Homo sapiens: one gene and its partners. The protein of the gene in region 1 purifies or fractionates together with the protein of each later gene. This does not show direct contact. Each region holds a gene or a part of one and is shown on either strand. Other genes may lie near its edges.

What was found. Proteins that work in one complex are often made in the same cells at the same time.
Region 2: the proteins of SERPING1 (region 1) and PLAT purify together in Homo sapiens (affinity purification with mass spectrometry; 2 studies listed by BioGRID and IntAct, with this or other methods). This does not show direct contact.
Region 3: the proteins of SERPING1 (region 1) and ARFGAP2 purify together in Homo sapiens (affinity purification with mass spectrometry; 2 studies listed by BioGRID and IntAct, with this or other methods). This does not show direct contact.

What each region holds. Positions count from the first base shown.
Region 1 is NC_000011.10:57,607,659-57,614,684, forward strand, and holds part of SERPING1 (plasma protease C1 inhibitor precursor), read left to right. Parts: intron 1-4,058; coding exon 4,059-4,278; intron 4,279-6,669; coding exon 6,670-6,923; 3' UTR 6,924-7,026. UniProt on the Homo sapiens protein: Serine protease inhibitor, which acrs as a regulator of the classical complement pathway. Forms a proteolytically inactive stoichiometric complex with the C1r or C1s proteases. May also regulate blood coagulation, fibrinolysis and the generation of kinins.
Region 2 is NC_000008.11:42,176,552-42,183,577, forward strand, and holds part of PLAT (tissue-type plasminogen activator isoform 1 preproprotein), read right to left. Parts: intron 6,340-7,026; coding exon 6,168-6,339; intron 5,472-6,167; coding exon 5,386-5,471; intron 4,135-5,385; coding exon 3,939-4,134; intron 3,828-3,938; coding exon 3,691-3,827; intron 3,516-3,690; coding exon 3,375-3,515; intron 2,513-3,374; coding exon 2,346-2,512; intron 1-2,345. UniProt on the Homo sapiens protein: Converts the abundant, but inactive, zymogen plasminogen to plasmin by hydrolyzing a single Arg-Val bond in plasminogen.
Region 3 is NC_000011.10:47,166,866-47,173,891, reverse strand, and holds part of ARFGAP2 (ADP-ribosylation factor GTPase-activating protein 2), read left to right. Parts: coding exon of another isoform or gene 1-51; coding exon 52-133; intron 134-409; coding exon 410-466; intron 467-1,140; coding exon of another isoform or gene 1,141-1,182; intron 1,183-1,558; coding exon 1,559-1,611; intron 1,612-2,091; coding exon 2,092-2,228; intron 2,229-2,334; coding exon 2,335-2,466; intron 2,467-5,640; coding exon 5,641-5,769; intron 5,770-5,848; coding exon 5,849-5,983; intron 5,984-7,005; coding exon 7,006-7,026.

The sequences.
Region 1 (7,026 bases):
ATAGAGGAGGGTTTTTTTCGAGACAGGGTCTCACTCTGTCACTCAAGCTGCAGTGCATTGACATGATCTCAGCTCACTGCAATCTCTGCCTCCCGAGTTCAAGCAGTTCTCCTGCCTCAGCCTCCCAAGTAGCTGGGACTACAGGAGCCCGCCACCACACCTGGCTAATTTTTGTATTTTTAGTAGAGACGGGGTTTCACCATGTTAGCCAAGCTGGTCTCGAACTCCTGACCTCAAGTGATCCACACCCTCAGCCTCCCAAAGGGCTGGGATTACAGGCATGAGCCACAGCGCCCAGCTGAGGAGGTTATTTTTGACCATTCTTTGCTCAGTTATTTATCCACTCATGGACTTATCCACCCATCTATCCATCCCTATCTAATGTATTTGACCATTCATGACTCATTTAGCAGAACCAGGACAGCCTGTATAAGGCACAGAAGAGTGAATATATGTGACAGGTCCAGAGCATTGTTCAAATTCAAGATACGTTGGGGGAGGTATAAATATGAGATTTTTTTCAAATCAATTGGAATGGCTATTTAATCAAAGCCATAGATGTTAGGTGGAAAGTAGGAATTAAGAACTTAACAAGTTAGGTTTAAATGTAACTATTCGAATTATAAGAACAAGTATTTCCTCTCTAAAAATGTTTTTAAAGTTTCACACAAAACTCTAAACCAAAAATCATTGTAAAAATCCCTTGGGAGTAGACTGTTGAAACCATTGAGGTGAGGTGATAGGTTAAGGTGAGCATTCTGGACATATAATATCAATAATAAATATTCAAATACAAAGCAGGTATAATATGAAGAGTAATTTCTATCTCCCCAAGCCAATATGAGTTTTGTTTGTTTGTTTGTTTTTCTTTTGAGATAAAGTCTCATTCTGTTGCCCAGGCCGGAGTGCAGTGGCACAATCCCAGCTCTCTGTAACCTCTGCCTCCCAGGTTCAAGCGATTCTCCTGCCTTAGCCTCCCTAGTAGCTGGGATTATAGGTGCCTGCCACCACTCCCAGCTAATTTTTGTATTTTTAGTAGAGATGGGGTTTCACCATGTTGGCCAGGCTGGTCATGAACTCCTGACCTCAAGTGCTCGTCCGTCTTCGGCCTCCTAAAGTGCTGGCATTACAGGCGTGAGCCACTGCACCCAGCCTGAGTTTTTTTTTTTTTTTTAAGCCAAAGGAGGAGGAGTAGTTTTGTGCACAAAAGCCACTATTTAGAGTTCCTTAGGTTTTAAACAGATAATTAATTTAATGTACTAACAAATGCAAAATTAAAATTTTACTTATGCCTTTTAATTTTAAGCTGAACTTGCTACATTAAGAGTAGGGTGATTTGGCTGGGCGCAGTGGCTCATGCCTATAATCCCAGCACTTTAGGAGGCTGAGGCAGGTGGATCACTTGAAGCTAAGAGTTTGAGACCAGCCTGGCCAACATGGTGGAATTCTGTCTCTACTAAAAATACAAAAATTAGCCAGGCATGGTGGCACATGTCTGTAATCCCAGCTACTCAGGATGCTAAGGCACAGAATCACTTGAACCTGGGAGGCAGAGGTTACAGTGAGCCAAAATCGCGCCACTGCACTCCAACCTGGGCAACACAGCAAGACTCTGTCTCAAAACACAAAAAAAGAATAGGCTGGGTACAGTGGCTCACGCCTGTAATCCCAGCACTTTGGGAGGCCGAGGCAGGTGAATCACCTGAGGTCAGGAGTTCGAGACCAGCTTGGCCAACATTGTGAAACCCCATCTCCATTAAAAATACAAAAAATAAGCCGGGTGTGATGGTGCACGCCTGTAATCCCAGATACTTGTGAGGCTGGGACAGAAGAATCGCTTGAACCCGGGAGGCGAAGGTTGCAGTGAGCCGAGATCATGCCACTGCATTCCAGCCTGAGCGACAGAGTGAGACCTTGTCTCAGAAAAAAAAAAATAGGGTGATTTTTATATAAAAACACTCTCATTTGTTCTTGAATTAATTGCCATATTGAACAGATTAAACTCCTTTAAACCATTTTTTCTATCTACAAACATAATTAGTATTCCCATAAGCATTTTAAGCTCCCTTTAAAAATTTAATATGCTCGATTTTCTTTTTTCTTTTATTTATTTATGTAGTTTTCCCAGACAGGGTCTTACTCTATCACCCAGTCTGGAGTACAGTGACACAATCCTCACTTACTGTAACCTCAAGCTCCTTGGGATGAAGCAGTCCTCCCACCCTAGCCTCTTAAGTAGCTGAGATTCCAGGCATGAGCCACCTCACCCAGCTGATTTTCTTTTTAAACACATCTAATACCTGACAGGTCGTAATTACGACTGTGCTTGGCCATATCATCCTAACACCTAAAGCTCACTTGTAAACTGAAAATTAAATTTGAAGGGTGAATTAACTTCTAGCCAACATTCCAATATCATTCTCACATTTAATGAAATTATCCTACAACTTTGCTTAAAAGCATAAAACTAGCATGTCAGAGTCTCTTAAAAATTACAATCACTATTTTAAATAACAAACATACAGGTTACCCTGAACTTAACACCTGGTTTTAACATGATGAAGTTGGTTTCTTTTGTCATTCTTATACTAAATTCTAAATCTTCCTGGCACTTAAGGATATTTACCCAAGGAAGGGGGTGAGATTTACCGGCTCAGGTACACCGAGGTTACTGGCTTGAAAATTCAAGACCACAGCATGGTAAATTTTTCTTCAGAGATTCAAGGTTCATACATAGGACTTGAAGGGCACATGCTACTCAAATGAGTATATCCAACTTGAGTGCTACATCAACAGGGACCCCATGTCCACTCTTTTCAGTCGAAATTGGCTTACTATCTACTTCTTCTGGGCTATTCAGGTTCCGACAATTGATTGCTTTCAGTTAATTTCTTTATTGCCCAGTTGAATTCTGCATTCTTCTAGATTCTTTTTGTTCCTTCAGCCTCAATCATAATACCATTTAATGACAGTCTCATATCCTATTAGACTAGGGTTTCTCAGCCTTGGCACTATTGACATATTGGGTCAGATAATTCTTTGTCCTGTGCATTGTAGAATTTAGCATCTTCCTTAGCTTCTACTCACTAGAAGCCAGTAGCACTGTGTGCACATCCTCCTTGCCCCCTGCCAGCTATGACAACCAAAATGTCTCCAGACATTACCAAATGTCCACTGAGAGGCAAATTCACTCCGAGTTGACAACCCCTGTATTAAACCCAGGGGCCCTGCACTTCTTACATACTTTTGTCTGGTCACCAGTTGAAAGTCCTTCTTCTTTTTTTTTTCTCTTTTTGAGATGGAGTCTCGCTCTGTCACCAGGCTGGAGTGCAGTGGCATGATCTCGGCTCACTGCAGCCTCCACCTCCCGGGTTCAAGCAATTCTCCTGCCTCAGCCTCCTGAGTAGCTGGGATTACAGGCACGTGCCACCACCCAGCTAATTTTTGTATTTTTAGTAGAGGTGGGGTTTCATCATGGTGGCCAGGATGGTCTCAATCTCTTGACCTCGTGATCCGCCCACCTCGGCCTCCCAAAGTGCTGGGATTACAGGTGTGAGCCACCGTGCATGACCAAAAGTCCTTCTAATAGCAAAGTGGAAAGGTAGGCTGTGAACAATCTTGAATGCCATACTAAGATTTGTACTTATTCTCATAGGCAGTGAAGAGCCATCAATAGTTTTTACAGAGGCTGACCTGATAACTCTGGCGGTTCAATGTGCATGCTATATACTATATGCACAACACATTAGGAAGGAAGGGAACAGCGCTCAGAGAAATCAAATCACTTGCCCATATTACATAGCTCGTCAGTGGTGGAGTCAGGGTATAATCAGAAACTCATGCTCCTTCCTCTACCTCTCCCCAGCACAGAGTTGGATCAGCACTGTTCACCCAGCTGGTATCCCCATTTCATGGTAAAGCCTGGAAGCTTAGGTCTGACTGATGCTTGTTGAAATACAGACTGTGGGAGCAGACTGCAGGACAGCATTGTGACAGAGGGTGGGGCCAGGAGAGAGATGCGGTAGGAAGACTGTTAAGATGCATCTCTTATTTTCTAGGTGGGGCAGCTGCAGCTCTCCCACAATCTGAGTTTGGTGATCCTGGTACCCCAGAACCTGAAACATCGTCTTGAAGACATGGAACAGGCTCTCAGCCCTTCTGTTTTCAAGGCCATCATGGAGAAACTGGAGATGTCCAAGTTCCAGCCCACTCTCCTAACACTACCCCGCATCAAAGTGACGACCAGCCAGGATATGCTCTCAATCATGGAGAAATTGGGTGAGCTCTGGCAGCTTAGGGTTACTCCCAGGCCATCAGAGGAGAAAGGGGGGATCCCTAAGATGTAGTTAGCATTCTCTAGAGTATTTTTTACATCCATAATCTCAGTTTGTCCTGCAACCCTGCAAGTTAGAGGGGTAGGTGCTATTATCCCATTGGATCATTGTGGAAATGGAGGCTCAGAAGCTTTATGTGACTTACCCAGAGATTCCATGATTTACCCTTGAGCTAGTCAGAGGCAAACCAGAACACCGACCCAGGTCTCCAGCTCTCCTGAGTTTTTTCTATGGTTCCTTGTGACATAGGCAGTGGAACAGTGGGACAGGTAACCGAGGTGAATTATGGATGCTCCTTCCCCAGACACATTTCAAAACAGTCAGCCACCCCGTGGAATATGCAAGAAGCTATCTGGAAGTGCAGATCTGGAGGCTTCTGAGTTTACGAGAGGCAACAGAGACTCCATTTTCTTTTTTTTTTTTTTTTTTGAGACGGAGTCTTGCTCTGTCACCCAGGACAGGCTGGAGTGCAGTGGTGCGATCTCTGCTCACTGCAAGATCCGCCTCCCAGATTCACGCCATGCCATTCTCTCGCCTCAGCCTCCCGAGTAGCTGGGACTACAGGTGCCCGCCACCACGCCTGGCTAATTTTGTTTTTGTATTTTTAGTAGAGACGGGGTTTCACTGTGTTAACCAGGATGGTCACAATCTCCGGACCTTGTGATCCACCTGCCTCGGCCTCCCAAAGTGCTGGGATTACAGGCATGAGTCACCGCGCCCAGCCCAGAGACTCCATTTTCTAACCTTTGTTTTTTTGTTTGTTTGTTTTTGAGACGGAGCCTCACTCTGTCACCCAGGCTGGAGCGCAGTGGCATGATCTTGGGTCACTGCAACCTCCGCCTCCTGGGTTCAAGTGATTCTCCTACCTCAGCCTCCCAAGTAGCTGGGATTACAGGCACCTACCACCACGCCCAGCTAATTTTTTTGTATTTTTAGTAGAGATGGGGTTTCACCATGTTGGTGAAGCTGGTCTTGAACTCCTGGGCTCAAGTGATCCACCCACCTCGGCTTCCCAAAGTGCTGGGATTACAGGTGTGAGCCACTGTGCCCAGCCTCATTTTCTAACCTTTGATCTCATGTCCAGCCCTGTCACTTCATTTCTTGTTAGAGAATTTGACCGCCTAACACATGATTCCATTTCCTTGTATATGTCATCTGTATAGGAAGAAAACCTCTTTTTTATTTTCATTCAACACTTCTGGCCACCAAACAGGTGTGGGAGTGTTTTCTAAGCAATTCTCCAGTTATCTGGGGACACCAACTGGGTGTCCTACAATTGAATCCAATTCTAACACTCTACCTGGAAATAACATCAGATCCCGTGCAGTTTAAGTGCTCCGCCCCAGCAAATTTCCCCCCGTTTCCAATGTCAGTTACAAGACTGGGTTGTCACCTGTGCATCAGACCAACCAGCTATAATTTGGAGATTCCCACAACTCCCTGCTAGGGTTTCATCATTTGCTAGAATAGCTGACAAAACTCAGGAGACACTTACATTTACTGGTTTATTATGTAAAGGATTAAGTAAAGGATACAGATGAACAGCCAGTTGAAGAGATACATAGGGCAAAATCTGGAAGGGTCCTGGGCCCAGCAGCATCTATCCTGTGGAGTTCTGTTTGCTACCTTCCTGACACATGTATGTGTTCACCAACCAGAAACTCTCAGAACCCTGTACTTTAGGAGAAGTCATCATGTAGGCATGATTGATTATTACCCAATCTCCAGCTCCTCTCTTCTCCCCAGAGGATGGAGAGAGGGGCTGAAAGTTCCAAGCTTCTAATCACACTTGGTCTTTCTGGTGACCAGCCCCAATCCAGGAGCCAGCAGGAGTAGCCTCATTAGCACAAAAGGCATTCCTATGACCCAGGAAATTCCAAGGGATCTAGTAGCTCTGTGTCAGGAACTGGGATCGGAGACCAAATATTAGATGGTCTAATATTTGGAGCTAAAGATGCTCCTATAGCATATTTTCCCATTATTTCACAGCATCATGGCATTGCATATAACCTCATTTTTTCATATATGACCTATCTCTGATCTATTACCTCACTTCCAAGGTCCTGGGAGATAAGGAGGCAATGACATCATTTTTCAGGGTTGTTTTAGGGATGAGGGGCAAGGCCTCTCACCTTGAGAGAGAGTGGCAGTGTTGGGCCCACTAATAGAGGATCCCACGAACTGCCAGAGGGTACAGTATGTAATCTGGCAAACAAGGGAAGAGGAAGAGAGCACTGGGACTCAGGATGAACCCAGAGAATTCAGGACAAAGGTCTCCATCAGCTGAGGGTATCATGCTGGCTTCTGACTCTGTTTTTCTCTGGTTTTGCCCTAGAATTCTTCGATTTTTCTTATGACCTTAACCTGTGTGGGCTGACAGAGGACCCAGATCTTCAGGTTTCTGCGATGCAGCACCAGACAGTGCTGGAACTGACAGAGACTGGGGTGGAGGCGGCTGCAGCCTCCGCCATCTCTGTGGCCCGCACCCTGCTGGTCTTTGAAGTGCAGCAGCCCTTCCTCTTCGTGCTCTGGGACCAGCAGCACAAGTTCCCTGTCTTCATGGGGCGAGTATATGACCCCAGGGCCTGAGACCTGCAGGATCAGGTTAGGGCGAGCGCTACCTCTCCAGCCTCAGCTCTCAGTTGCAGCCCTGCTGCTGCCTGCCTGGACTTGGCCCCTGCCACCTCCTGCC
Region 2 (7,026 bases), on another chromosome or scaffold:
GAATAAGCACGTTGGAAAATGAATGAATACAAAGTGTTATAAAGTAAAAATCTGTCTAGTCTGTGCTAAATACACGAATGCATGATAAACTGTGAGGTGTGGAGGCAGTCAGGGAGCCTGCCCTATTTGTGATTGTTTTTGAACTTCATGGTAGTAAGAGGTGTTCCTTACCATTTTTGCTTTGCAAACATTTATTCCCTGAATTAACCCACCACTATTATGGCCGCCATCATTCACTTATTCTCCAAAAATTGGGTAAATAAATACCATGTTTGTTTTTATTAACCTTTCTTAAATGTTGTATAGCTCACATTTATTTCAATATTGAATGTTAGAAGTGTTTTGGGTCTTTATTTAGAAGTTTGCTGATGTTTTTATGACTAGAAATATTGCCACAAGAACTTCACTCTTCTTTTTTTGTTTTTTTTTGTTTTTTTGTTTTGAGACAGAGTCTCACTCTGTCACCCACCCAGGCTGGAGTGCAGTGGCGCAATCTCAGCTCACTGCACCCTCCACCTCCGGGGTTCAAGCAATTCTCGTGCTTATGGGCACGCACCACCACACCTGGCTAATTTTTGTGTTTTTAGTAGAGGCAGGGTTTCACCATGGTGGCCAGGCTGGTCTCGAACTCCTGACCTCAGGTGATCTGCCTTCCTCAGCCTCTCAAAGTGCTGGGATTACAGGCATGAGCCCCGCACCTGACCAACTCTTGTTTATATCAATTAGCTGGTGGTAAAATTGGTTTTGTTATACGTCATTTCACTTACAGTTGCAGTTTCTAAGAACCTATTTTTTCCAGGCATGCTGTTAAGTGGAGACTTACTGAAGAGTGGGTAGATTGTATCTCAGTTATCTTGGTCCCATGGAGGATTAGGCTGTATCTATTCTGGTAAAGTAGAGTTAATTACTCAAACGTTTCAGGCCTCAAAAACCCTGGCTTGGCTCCATCACTTACTAGCTGATGGCCTTAGACTAACCATGCTTTGGTTTTCTTATCTGTACCATAGAGATAATATTCATACTACCCATAGAGTGGTTATGGCATTCAGTAGAAGAATGCATGAAAAGCACTGGAAGACATCTAGTAAAACTCTTGGTAATTGTTAGCTGTTCTTATATTGAATTAAAATGATTTGGTTTTGCTTTTAACTAAGCTTGCAGATAGATAATGGTTTCACTTTGGTACAACCTTTTTGTTTCTGGACTGTAAGCTGGTACAGCTGAGGTTGCTGAAGAAACCATTCAAAAAGAAACTAAATCCTGTCAGGGAATCAGAGGGGAAACCGCCGATATGACTGCCTTGCGAAAACAAAGCCCACACATCCTTCAGCACCAGAGCCTGGCCTCACTTCTCTTTGTATCTCTTCTACCCCCAGCCCCTAAAGGAGAGCTTCGCACGCTGCAGGCACTGAAATGTCTGAGGAAGATCAATTCCTTGGCTCTGTGCAGGTCTTAATACCAGCAGGCTGGCCTGTCCTCCCATACCCCAGTATCTGGCTAATCATGAAATATAAGTACTAATTCTGATAAGGATGCCCACACAAAGGACCTCAAATAGTGTGCTTTCCCAGGGTATTAGGGCTGAATGTGAGTTTTGAAAACTTCTTTCTCACATCATCTAGATCCTGCTTCCCAGTAAGTTGCCTTTCTTCCTTCTCCTTCTACAAAGCAGACTCCAATTCTCTAGTGCCAACAGAGGCAAACATTTCTTTCTTTTTTTTTTTTTTTTTTTTTTTGAGATCGAGTTTCGCTCTTGTTGCCCAGGCTGAAGCGCAATGGCGCGATCTCGGCTCACTGCAACCTCTGCCTCCCGGGTTCAAGCGATTCTCCTGCCTCAGCCTCCTGAGTAGCTGGGATTACAGGCATGTGCCACCATGCCAGGCTAATTTTGTATTTTTAGTAGAGATGGGGTTTCTCCATGTTGGTCAGGCTGGTCTCGAACTCCTGACCTCAGGTGAGCCTCCCACCTCAGCCTCCCAAAGTGCTGGGATTACAGGCGTGAACCACCACACCAGGCTGAGGCAAACGTTTCTTAATTGTGTGGCTCTCTCCATCACTTCAATAGTCAATCAATTGCCTGGGCTGAAAGGAAATCCTGTACAGGTGGAGTTGCCTGTGCAGATCCTGGGGAAATTTCCTGCAGTTTAGAATTCTTAGGTTTAGGTGACTTTGATCTTCCTCCAGTTGCTTTATTCTGTGAGGCCCTCATCTAGAATCCCCAGGGGTATCACTAAGAGGAAATCACTCCACTCTGGTGATAACTTTTTTCTTTGGTGAAGAACCTGTTGTCCCAGGGGCATTCTCCCCTGGGTTGTGCCCAGCATGGGCGCGCCACTCCTGGTTACCTGGCAGGCGTCGTGCAAGTTTGCCTGGGGCCCGCCGCTCCGAGTGTCTCCAGCACACAGCATGTTGTCGGTGACTGTTCTGTTAAGTAAATGTTGTGATGTGCAGCGGCTGGATGGGTACAGTCTGACATGAGCCTCCTTCAGCCGCTCCGAATAGAAAGGAGACACTGAAAGGGGAGAACCATCATATGGTTTTAGGGAAAGTTATTTATAAACGTTTTTGAAAGAGAAAGCCAAATTTTCCAATAATAGCTAACATTGATCAAGATTCAACATGTATTAGGTCGAATCCTATGACACTGCTGGTATTTTATCGTTTTGACCCACAAAAACAGCAGGATTCCGGGATTGAACCCACAGCCTCTCCGTAGTGGCACTGCTGATGCTTCGGACCAGGGAGGTCCCTGTTGTGGGGGATGGGGACAGTCCCGAGCCCTGCAGTGTGCAGCATCCCTGGCTGCACTCACTGAAGGCCGGCGTTAACCCTCACCCTAAACTGTAACAACCAAAAACGTCTCCAGACCTCGCCAAACGTTTCCTGGGGGACAAAATCACCCCAGCTGACATCCATTCGTTCAATATTATCTCATTTAACCCTCCTAATCTAATTAGGGAGATAGTTCTATCTCCACTTTACCAACGAGGAAACTGAGGCTGGGAGCAGTTCAAAATAAAAATCCATGTCCACGGTCACACAGCTCAGCAAGTGGGATTTGAAATCGGGTCTTTGTAACTCCAGCTTCCCAGAACCCACACGCTTAGCGACTGTACTCCACTTCCTACTCAGAACCTTCCCAACACCTGCAGCACTTCGAGGCCCTCATACTGTTGTGTCCTTTCCTGGCCTGCAGTGTCCCTGTGAGGCAGAGACAGCAGAGACGGGCCCCCACGACACAGGGAGACGGGACTGGCGTCAGTGCCTGACCCGGGGCTGGAACTTCGGTCTCCTGACCCCATTTTCCTCTGGTGGACCGCAGCCTCCCCTGCTGTCCCGCAGACAGGATGGGGCCGAGACTTCCTTCCACTTACAGGCCTCATGCTTGCCGTAGCCGGAGAGCTCACACTCCGTCCAGTCCGGCAGCTGCAGGTCCGCCGGGGGAAGGCACACAGTGCGGACCACGCTGCTCTCCTGGGCACAGCGGGACGAATCCGATTTCAGCTGCAGCAGCGCTGGGAGGGAGAAAGGAGGAGTGAGCTGGCGTGAGGGCCGCGTCCCCGGGAGGGGAGGAACACGCAGGAGGGGCAGGGGCTGGAGGAGGAGGCCCGTGTGTGTAAACATAGGTGAGTGCATGTGGGTGTGTTGTGTGATCTGTATGAACTGGAGCCGGGAATGACGAGCTCTTACCAATGTCATTGTCGTAAGTGTCATCATCGAATTCCTTATGGACAATGTATTTTTCGACTTCAAATTTCTGCTCCTCCTCGCCAGGGACCACCCGGTATGTTCTGCCCAAGATCACCGTCAGGTGGTGGGGCGGAAACCTGGTGGAGAAACAGCCTTAGAATGCTTTTTTTGCTGTGGGATTTCCCCTAAAGGGCTTGGTTTCTAGGCGTTAGAGGGTGGAAAAACCAACTGGGTTTCCGAGCCCCTACCTCTCCTGGAAGCAGTGGGCGGCAGAGAGAATCCAGCAGGAGCTGATGAGTATGCCCCCGCACAGGAACCGCTCTCCGGGCGACCTCCTGTGCTTGGCAAAGATGGCAGCCTGCCAGGGGTGGGAGGCGATGTCGGCGAAGAGCCCTCCTTTGATGCGAAACTGAGGCTGGCTGTACTGTCTCAGGCCGCAGGTGGCTGGGGAGGAAAGGACGAGGAGGCAGTCAGTCCCACAGGCCTCCTGCACGTGTGTAGGTAGAGTGAGGAGGCCATCAGCATGGCTGTAAAACCACAACTTTCACTTGGTGGGATCAGCATGCCGAATGTTGTCCATACATTCTCTTTAGTTCCCACAGCGATAAGTTTCAGGAGGCGGAGACGTTTTTGCCCAAGGTTGCAATGGCACCTGGATTAGTTCCCAAGTATGTTTGACTCCAAAACTGGGGATCTGCCATCCTTCATTCCTTCTAATGTTTTCCTACAGCCATTTCCTGGCCTAAGAAATGAAGAATTGCAGCTTCCTTCTGTGGAATGTCTGCTCATTTCTTTTCCATCTGTCCAACCTTACCCATGCTTCAAGGCCCAGGTGCAATCCTGCCTCCTCGCAAAGCTTTCCTGACGTCCCCACCTGCTCAGCTCTGAGGAGCTTAGGGACACGGACCACTGAGGACTCACACTAATGCCCTTGGGTGTGAGTTAGCTGGTGGTCTGTGTCTCATCGTCCCAGTTGGACTTGTGTTCCTTGGGGAACATTCTGGCTGATCTGTGTTCACAGGAGGTGATTAATAACCTACTCTCTGGCCATTTCCAAACTAAAGTTTCATTTTTTAGCAATATGCACCAACTTGAATCTCCTATCTCTCACCCACATCATGAGCCAGCTCCCCTGTGTGAAATAGGTCAACAGGAAACGTGGAAGATCTCACAGTGGAAGTACATGCCATTGGGGTCAGAGGGCATGAGGGCAGGCCCTAGCTTTACCTCCCGGTGCCCAGCGAGCTTGGGCAGGCCACCTGGCGTCTGGGAGACTGCTTCCTACTCAGTAAACTGGAGGTAGGAAGACCACCTCCACCACGCTGTTGGACAAATGTGGTGAAGGCACTTTATTATCTAAGGAGCCATGCATGCGAGGCCTCCTCCTCATTCCCCATTACTCTCAGCAACACCAATAGAGGCGTCTAGAGAGAGCCGGGTAGAGCCTACTGACTTCTCAGAGAGGTTGCTGTGTTCTTTTCTTTCTTCTTGCCCCTCCCCACCACCCCCATGCATGGGTCATGGACACCCGCCCACCCACCGTGGCTTCAGTCATGGAAGCCCCCTCCCCACCCAGCCTGGAAGTCTGGTAGGCACACAGTCTGCACCAGACAGCCATGAAGGCCTAGAAAGTGGCGAGGAGATGGTGAAGAAGGGAGACCAGGTGCAGGGAGGCAGCCGGGGCCCAGCCCTTACAGCAGGAGGGCACATCACAGTACTCCCACGTCAGCCTGCGGTTCTTCAGCACGTGGCACCAGGGCTTGGCATCCCCATCAGGATTCCTAAATGATAAGAGAGTTTAAGGTTTCCTTTTTATCTTCTTATTTTTTAATTTTTGTAGAGATGGGGTCTTGCCATGTTGCCCAGGCTGGTCTTGAACTCCTGGGCTCAAGCAATCCTCCTGCCTCAGCCTCCCAAAGTGCTGGGATTACAGGCATGCACCACCACACCAGGCCAGGAGTTTAAGATTTTCAATCCCATTTTCAGCCACATCACAGGCCATGTAAGAGTAGAAGGAGACTCAGTCAACCAATGAAAACCACTGAGCTGGGAGGGAGGACACCGAGTTCATCTTGACCTTGCAGCACACCCCCACCCTAGGAGAACTTCTCTTTAACTTTGTTACCCAGTCAGTAATGTAGTGTTCTAATCTCATAGGGTTGTCAGACAGAACTGTGAGCTGTCCTGTTACGGAACTCTTACAAATCATTGCAATAAAGATGTCAGGAGAACAGCTGAGGACTAAATGGTTACAGGCCAGGACCCTTAACTTGGGATTTAGGTTGGAAAACTGGTAGACCTTGCTTTTCACAATATGTGTTATTCTAGCAAGTGAAGAGGTTGGATTAGATAATATCCATGGGTGCTTCCCACGCACTGGGTCTGTCATGCAACTTGAGACATTGGATCTTCCCCCGTCTCACACCCTAATCCCACGTTCTGCCAAGACCTGAACCCCCCACCCCTGTGCTACCTACCGGCAGTAATTATGTTTGCCCAGGCCCAGTGCCTGGGCACTGGGGTTCTGTGCTGTGTAAACCTTGCCTATCAGGATCATGGAATTCCACGGGAGGCAGGAGGCACCCGACTCGGTGAGGCTGTGCGTGCCACGGTAGGCTGACCCATTCCCAAAGTAGCAGTCACTGTTTCCTAGAAGAAAAGAATTCTCAAACTGAAACAAAAACAAATTCTGAAGCACGCAAGTCAGGGCTGGGGCTTGAAGCGGAGCTGCCGGTCGAGGAAGCTGGAGGCCGCTAGCCCGGCACTGAGAAGAGTGTAACACCTCACACTTCCCCTTTTGTTGCCCAGGCTGGAGTGCAATGCGCGATCTTGGCTCACTGCAATCTCCACCTCCTGGGTTCAAGCGATTCTTCTACCTCAGCCTCCCGAGTAGGTGGGGTTACAGGCATGCGCCACCATGCTACGCTAATTTTGTATTTTTAGTTGAGACAGGGTTTCACCATGTTGGCCAGGCTGGTCTTGAACTCCTAACATCAGGTGATCTGCCCGCCTCAGCCTCCCAAAGTGCTGGGAGTACAGGTGTGAGCCAACACGCCCGGCCTGAGCCTTTTTCCCCCTCTTTGAGTCCTTTTACTTAGAGATGGCAAGGGGGTTTCATCTCCACCGGAAGTGGCTCCCTAGATTGCTATGTTGAGAGAGAGTCTGGGGACATCTTCAGGTTCAGCAGGAAGAACCACTTCCATGAGTGGGGGCTGTTTCTGAAGCTGCTTTGAAAGCCAGTAGGGGTTTCCTTGTGTTACTTAACAGGCTGCAGTGAACCAACGTGCTTCAGTGGGGCTGGGGTGGGGGTTATTTCTCGGACTGTGTCTGCCAGTG
Region 3 (7,026 bases), about 10 Mb from region 1:
TGCCAGCAGGAGTGGCTCACCGAGGCATCTGTGATCTGGCCTCCTTTTCAGCCCCCTGCCTGGGATGCGCCAGCCACTGAGCCTTCAGGGACCCAGCAGCCAGCCCCGTCTACAGAGAGCAGTGGCCTGGCACGTGAGTTCAGCCCAGATTCCAACCAGGTGCCCTGGTCCTAGGAGAGGACTCAGGGTTTGGAAGGGGACATCTGGCCATGACAATAGGAGCAGGGGTCCTCCTGTATCTTTGGGTGGGCCGGGATTCATTTTAATCCTTGGAGGAAGTGGTAGATATTCCTTTTATCTTTTGGTGGCAAGCTGAGGAAAGCCACCGATTCTTGTCCCATCACTTCTTTCAAGGGGAGGTTGCAGGAAGCTAGGAGCTCATCTCTAACTCCTACCATTGCATCCACAGAGCCGGAGCATGGCCCCAACACAGACCTGCTTGGCACCTCACCCAAAGCCTCACTGGGTCAGTATGCCAGCGGGCAGGCGTGGGGTGTCTGGGAGAGGGTGGACCTCAAATGTTCTTTTCAGAGGTCCTACTGCCTGGCCGTGTGGACAGAGGCCACAGGAGACTGAGCATCTATCTGATTCTCTGGAGTGGGGACTGTGATTGAAATAGTGGATGCAACACTGATTTTAGAGCCAAGCCCTTTGAATTGATGAATCTGGGTGGGCTGGTGTATAAGGCCTGGGGTCTGCCTCTGAGTGTGGGGCTGGGTCTAGCCAAAGTGTTGGGGAGGCCAGCATGAGACTGGACACCTATCCCTGGGCTCTGAGGCAGGGCTGGCTTGTCTGGTGCATTTCCGGGGGTGGAGGGACAGCTCTGAGCTGCCGAAGGCTGGAGGTGACATTGTTCTTTCTCAGCCAGTACCCCAGCCTGTCCTTTAACTCTTTCCTACATTTTCCTTAGTGTCTTTCAGACTTGGTTCAGGGCGAACAGTCCATTTGCTGACCTCGGTTTGTTCTGTTGACTCTTGGGGGTTGGGGCTGGAACCCAGCAGAGTGACTGTCAGACTGATCCATGAGAAGGCTGGCATAGCTTGGTCTGAAGCAGGGCTTCATAGAGACCGCTGGGCTTGGGAGCTCTGTGGAGGCTCTGGGGTGGGCCTCTTGTTAGCCACAAGTCTGTTTCTCCTCCAGAGTCCGTGTATCTGTCAGCTAAAGGGGCCCTTCCTGCCAGAGGTAACTGACAGCTGCTTGGGGAGCCCAGCCCCTGTTCTCAGCTTCCTGCTTTAGAAGCGGAGCCTGGTGCTCACCATATGCTCCCTGCCTCGCAGTCTTTGTTTTGGTTCAGGGAATTTGGACGTCTCTGGTGCTTCGGACGTCTCTGGTGCTTCAGGTCTAGGTTCCTGTCTCACTCTGCTGGGTGCCAGTAAATACCCCAGCCACGTCTGTCTTTGGCTTTGACACCGCTGGTTGGAGCTGGTGGTGGCAGCTTTGCCTTCCCTTGCCTGAAGCTGTTCTTAGGAGCTCTTGCCATGAAGCTGCATGGTGTATACTGAGCTACTGCCTCTGAGCTGCCTTTGTCTTAGCTCATGCCTACCCGTTTCTCACGCAGAACTGAAAAGCTCCATCATTGGCAAGAAGAAGCCAGCAGCAGCTAAGAAAGGGGTAGGTGGGGAGAGGTGGTATGGTAGAGGGGTTAGGAGCTGGGTGCAGGCTACCTGGGTTCACTCCTTGACCTTACCACTTACCAGCTATATGACTTTGGCAAAGGTACTGTGTTTCTCCGAACCTCGCCTGTGAAAGGGATTTAAAGATTTAAAGGGATTTAAAGCCTGTCTTCAAGGGCTGCTGGGAGGAGTCGGTGAGATGGAGCACATCTAGTGCTTGGCGGAGTGCTTGGCACATACTTGGCCCTGTCAGCATTAACTGCCGTCCTCAGGCCCGGGCTCTGCTGGGGCTGTGTGAGCCGCCCATGCCCAGCTCCAGCGGAGCACTATTGTCTTGGCCATGCTGGTTGGGCTCCTGTTTTTTACCCTAAATTTTAAGAAGGGCCTTTTCCTTGTGGGTGTGGCTACAGTGCCTGAACCTGGGAGGGATCTGAGGAGAGTGTGATTGGGAAGGCCCCTTACATGATTCTGTTCCCAGCTGGGTGCCAAGAAAGGCCTAGGGGCCCAGAAGGTGAGCAGCCAGAGCTTCAGTGAGATTGAGCGGCAGGCTCAGGTGGCAGAGAAGCTCCGTGAGCAGCAGGCAGCCGATGCCAAGAAGCAGGCGGAGGAGTCCATGTAAGTGTTTGCTGCCGGGGCCTCAGGCTTCTGCGGGGCTTGGTGGGTGGGTATGTTGGACAGGTCAGGATGGGTGGTGGCCACTGACACCTTTGTTCCCCCTAAGGGTCGCCTCCATGCGTCTGGCCTACCAGGAGCTCCAGATTGATCGTAAGAAAGAGGAAAAGAAGCTACAGAATCTGGAAGGGAAGAAGCGAGAGCAGGCAGAAAGGTTGGGCATGGGCTTGGTATCCCGAAGGTGAGGCTCAGCTCCGGGTGTGGCAGGGAAATGCCGTTGTTTTCTGGGAACCATTGCGGGGCCTTCCTAGCAGTTTGGGATGCTAGGCTTATTGTTTCTCCAAGTCTGAATAGATCACTTGGCTTATTGTTCTAAAGTCCCTAATACAGTGCTTGGCGCATAGTAGGTATGTGCTCAGTAAGTTGAATGACTGAATAGGTATGTGAACAAAACACAGGATCAGGTGTTATTTCAGTATCTTCAAGAGACTAGGGTGGTTTTTCTTGATGGCACTTTGAGTCATGGGACAGTTTATTTTTCCAGACCTCCCTGAGAATTGCGGTGCATTTAGTATCATCCTTAATTCCTGTCTAGAGATGCCATTTGTGCTCCCTGTAATACCCTCACATATCCCCCACATTTCAAATGCCCTCAGTTTGGGTGGAATCCTTCCTGTTTCAGAACCACTCGGTTTGCTGTGGTTTTCTTTCTTTTTCTTTTGAGACAGATTCTTGCTCTGTTGCCTAGGCTGGAGTGTAATGGTGTGATCTCAGCTCACTGCAACCTCTGCCTCCTGGGCTCAGGTGATCCTTCCACTTCAGCCTCCCAAATAGCTGGGACCACAGCCGGGAGCCACCATGCCCAGCTAATTTTTTTACTTTTTGTAGAGACAGGGTTTTGCTATGTTGTCCAGCCTGGTCTCGAATTCCTGGGTTTAAGTACCTTGGCTTCACAAAGTACTGGGATTACAGATGTGAGCCACCATGTCTGGCTGCTATGGCTTTTTATTTTTATTTTTTGAGACAAAGTCTCACTCTGTCACCCAGGCTGGAGTGCAATGGCACGATCTTGGCTCACTGCAATCTCTACCTCCTGGGTTCAAGTGATTCTCCTGTCTCAGCCTCCCAAGCAGCTGGGATTACAGGTGTGTACCACCGTGTCTGGCTAATTTTTTGTATTTTTAGTAGAGATGGGGTTTCACCATGTTGGCCAGGCTGATGTCGAACTCTTGACCTCAAGTGATCCACCTGCCTCAGCCTCCCAAAGTGCTGGGATTACAGGCATGAGCCACGGTGCCCGGCTTTCTTTTTTCTTTTCTTTTCTTTTTTTTTTTTTTTTTTTTGAGATGGAGTCTTGCTCTGTCACCCAGGCTGGAGTTCAGTGGTGTGATCTCAGCCCACTGCAGCCTCCGCCTCCCAGATTCAAGCAATTCTCCTGCCTCAGCCTCCTGAGAAGCTGTGATTACAGGCATGTGCCACCATGCCCAGCTTATTTTTGTATTTTAGTAGAGATGGGGTTTCACCATGTTGCCCAGGCTGGTGTAAAACTACTAGCTTCAAATGATCTGCCCGCCTCGGCCTCCCACAGTACTGGGATTACCGGTGTGAGCCACGGCGCCCAGTGCTTGGATTACGGGCGTGAGCCACATCCAGCCAGAGCATAACATTTTAACTTGAAAGGACATTGGGTCTCCCTCCTTTCCCTGCTTCAGTCACATAGGAATGACTGGGTTAATAGATGACTGGGTTAAGGGATGACCAAGGGGTTAAGGCATATGAACAGTTTTTTAGCAGTGCAACAATTGTTTACTTAAACCCAACTCACCCTATTTATTTATTTGAGACAGAGTTTCAATCTCGTTGCCTAGGCTGGAGTGCAATGGTGTGATCTCAGCTCACCACAACCTCCGCCTCCGGGGTTCAAGCTATTCTCTTGCCTCAGCCTCCACACCTGGCTAATTTTGTATTTTTAGTAGAGACAGGGTTTCTCCGTCTTGGTCAGGCTGGTCTCGAACTCCCGACCTCAGGTGATCCGGCTGCCTCGGCCTCCCAAAGTGCTGGGATTACAGGTGTGAGCCACCATGCCCGGCCCAACTCAGCCCTATTGCAAAATAATCACTCCTTGGGGTTCTTCTAGCTAAAAGCTATAGATATTTTTTAATGAATTGATTTAAATCAAATTAGTCCTTAAAGTGTCCTTGTGGAGCCTGACAGAGGAATGAGAGGCATCAAGAGTTGTATTGTATTGCCTGCCAACCCTAGACCCCTTTTCTTTGAGAAACGAGACAGCAATTCTAGGTCTTAGTGCATAAGGCCAGTCTTTGTGCTTTGAGGTGCTTTTTTTTTTCTCTCTGAGACGGAGCCTCGCTCTGTTGCCCAGACTGGAGTGCAGTGGTGCGATCTCGGCTCACTGCAAGCTCCGCCCCCCAAGTTCACGTCATTCTCCTGCCTCAGCCTCCCAAGTAGCTGGGACTACAGGCACCTGCCACCATGCCCGGCTAATTTTTTTGTATTTTTAGTAGAGACGGGGTTTCACCATGTTAGCCAGGATGGTCTCGATCTCCTGACCTCGTGATCTGCCCGCCTCGGCCTCCCAAAGTGCTGGAATTACAGGTGTGAGCCACGGTGCCTGGCTTTTTTTTTTTTTAATAAAGAGTAGGATGATGAAGAACTCATTCTTTGATGCAGTTATGTTCATTTCCCTGGTGCTGGGGCATTTCTTCATCCATTCCTTTGCTTTGTGAACCCCATCAGTGAAGGATGGGGTTCATAGTGCACAAGGTAGGGAGTTGTTCAGGACAGAGACCACTGGCATCTGGTGCACAATATTAAAATTACAACACGAGCCAGGCACAGTGGCTCACGCCTATAATCCTGGCACTTTTGGAGGCCAAGGCGGGTGGATTGTCTGTACTCAGGAGTTTGAGACCAGGCTGGGCAATGTGGCGAAACCCTGTCTCTACTGAAAAAACACAAAAAATCAGCTGGGTGTGGTGACGTGCACTGTAGTCCCAGCTGCTCGGGAGGCTGAGGCACAAGAATCGCTTGAACCTGGGAGGTGGTGGTTGCAGTGAGCCAAGATTGCACCACTGGACTCCAGCCTGGGCGACAGAGTGAGAATCTGTCTCAAATAAATAAATAAAATTAAATTATAACAGGCAAACCGTCACTGGCCAGGGAACTCCTACGTGGAATAAACAAAGCTGATGTGTAAAGAATTCTGAGGTGTGCTTCACAGGTCACCACACACAGCTAGCCTTCTGTTGGGGTCTGGCCCAGCCCTGTGCTTGGGTAAGGACAGAAGGCTCTGGGTGACGCTCCGTGAAGGAGAACCCAGTTGCTGGGCATTGTCTCTTGTGCGGTGATGCTGATGCCTATCCTTTGGTCTCATGCCTGGCTCTGCTTTGCTGCGCAGCTCTGTCTCCCACTCCGTGCTGTCTGAGATGCAGGTGATTGAGCAGGAAACCCCAGTGAGTGCAAAATCCTCTCGCTCGCAGCTGGACTTGTTTGACGATGTTGGTACTTTCGCCTCTGGACCCCCAAAGTAAGGCTGTTTTCTAGCTGTAAACTTGGCTGCTGTGTTCCTCATCAGGCTTCTCTGAGCCACTCTACTGTCTCCCTAGGTACAAGGACAATCCCTTTTCCTTAGGGGAAAGCTTTGGCTCCCGCTGGGATACAGATGCTGCCTGGGGTATGGACAGGGTAGAGGAGAAGGAGCCAGAAGTGACCATCTCAAGCATCCGGCCTATTTCAGAAAGGTAGAGTGGGCTGTTTTTTCTTTTTTCTTTCTTTTTTTTTTTTAAACAAGCTGAAGGTAGAGAATTCTAAGGCAGCACTGTCTAGAAGAACTTTCTGTGTTGATGGGAATGTTCTCTGTGTTGTTTAATATGGTAGCCACTACTATGTGGCTATGAGCCCTTAAAATGTGGTTGGTGCAACTGAGCAACAATTTCTGATGTAGTTTAATTTCTGATAAACGTAAATAGCCACCAGTGGCTGGTGCCTGCCTCATTAGACAGGGCAGCAGTCAGGCTTCGGTTTGAGTTGTGCTTTGTCATCATAGAGGGCCTGGCAGCTTCTTTTGCTTGGGGTCCATTTCTCTGGCCGGAGGAGCCTGATTGTATGCTTCAGTCCTGACCTCCTTTCAGGGGTTTTATGTCTCCAGCCCCCTTCTTATTTTTTAAAACCCTACTCCATCTTAATCTGGGATCTGTTTAGTTGACATAATATCTGTGAGTTATCCCCGTATAAAATGGGAACGTAACTACTTCATAGGGTCTCCGGAAATACCTGGCCCAGTGTCCACATACTCAGCGTGAGATGAGAGCAACCATCTCCCTTTCCACACCAGGATGCTTTTGAGAGTAAAGGGGGCAGTTTGCTATTCATAGTTATGACAAGAGTAGGTATAAAGCCAGGCAGACCGACACATATGCTCATTGTAGTACTAGGCAAGTTGTCACTAGGATTAGGGTAGCAGCAGTTGTGTGGCCTCCTGAATGCTGACGAAGCTGTGTGCTTTTGGGCAGGAGCCTAGGCCACTGCAGGCTGTATTTCCACCCTGCCTAGTGCAGGTTCCTAAGCTCTCTGGGCCTTGGCCTCAATGTGGAGAAGGGTGACTCCTCACCAGGGGAGAGGGGCCCAGAGCCACAGAGCCACAGACAGAATGGGACCTGGTAACCCATCACCAAAAGGCCACTGGTGCTCTGTTTGGCCTCTGTACTCTGCCTCCCCTGATGATAATGGGAGGAGTCCGAGATATTCCACATCTTCCCCTCAGAGCCACAAACCGGAGGGAAGT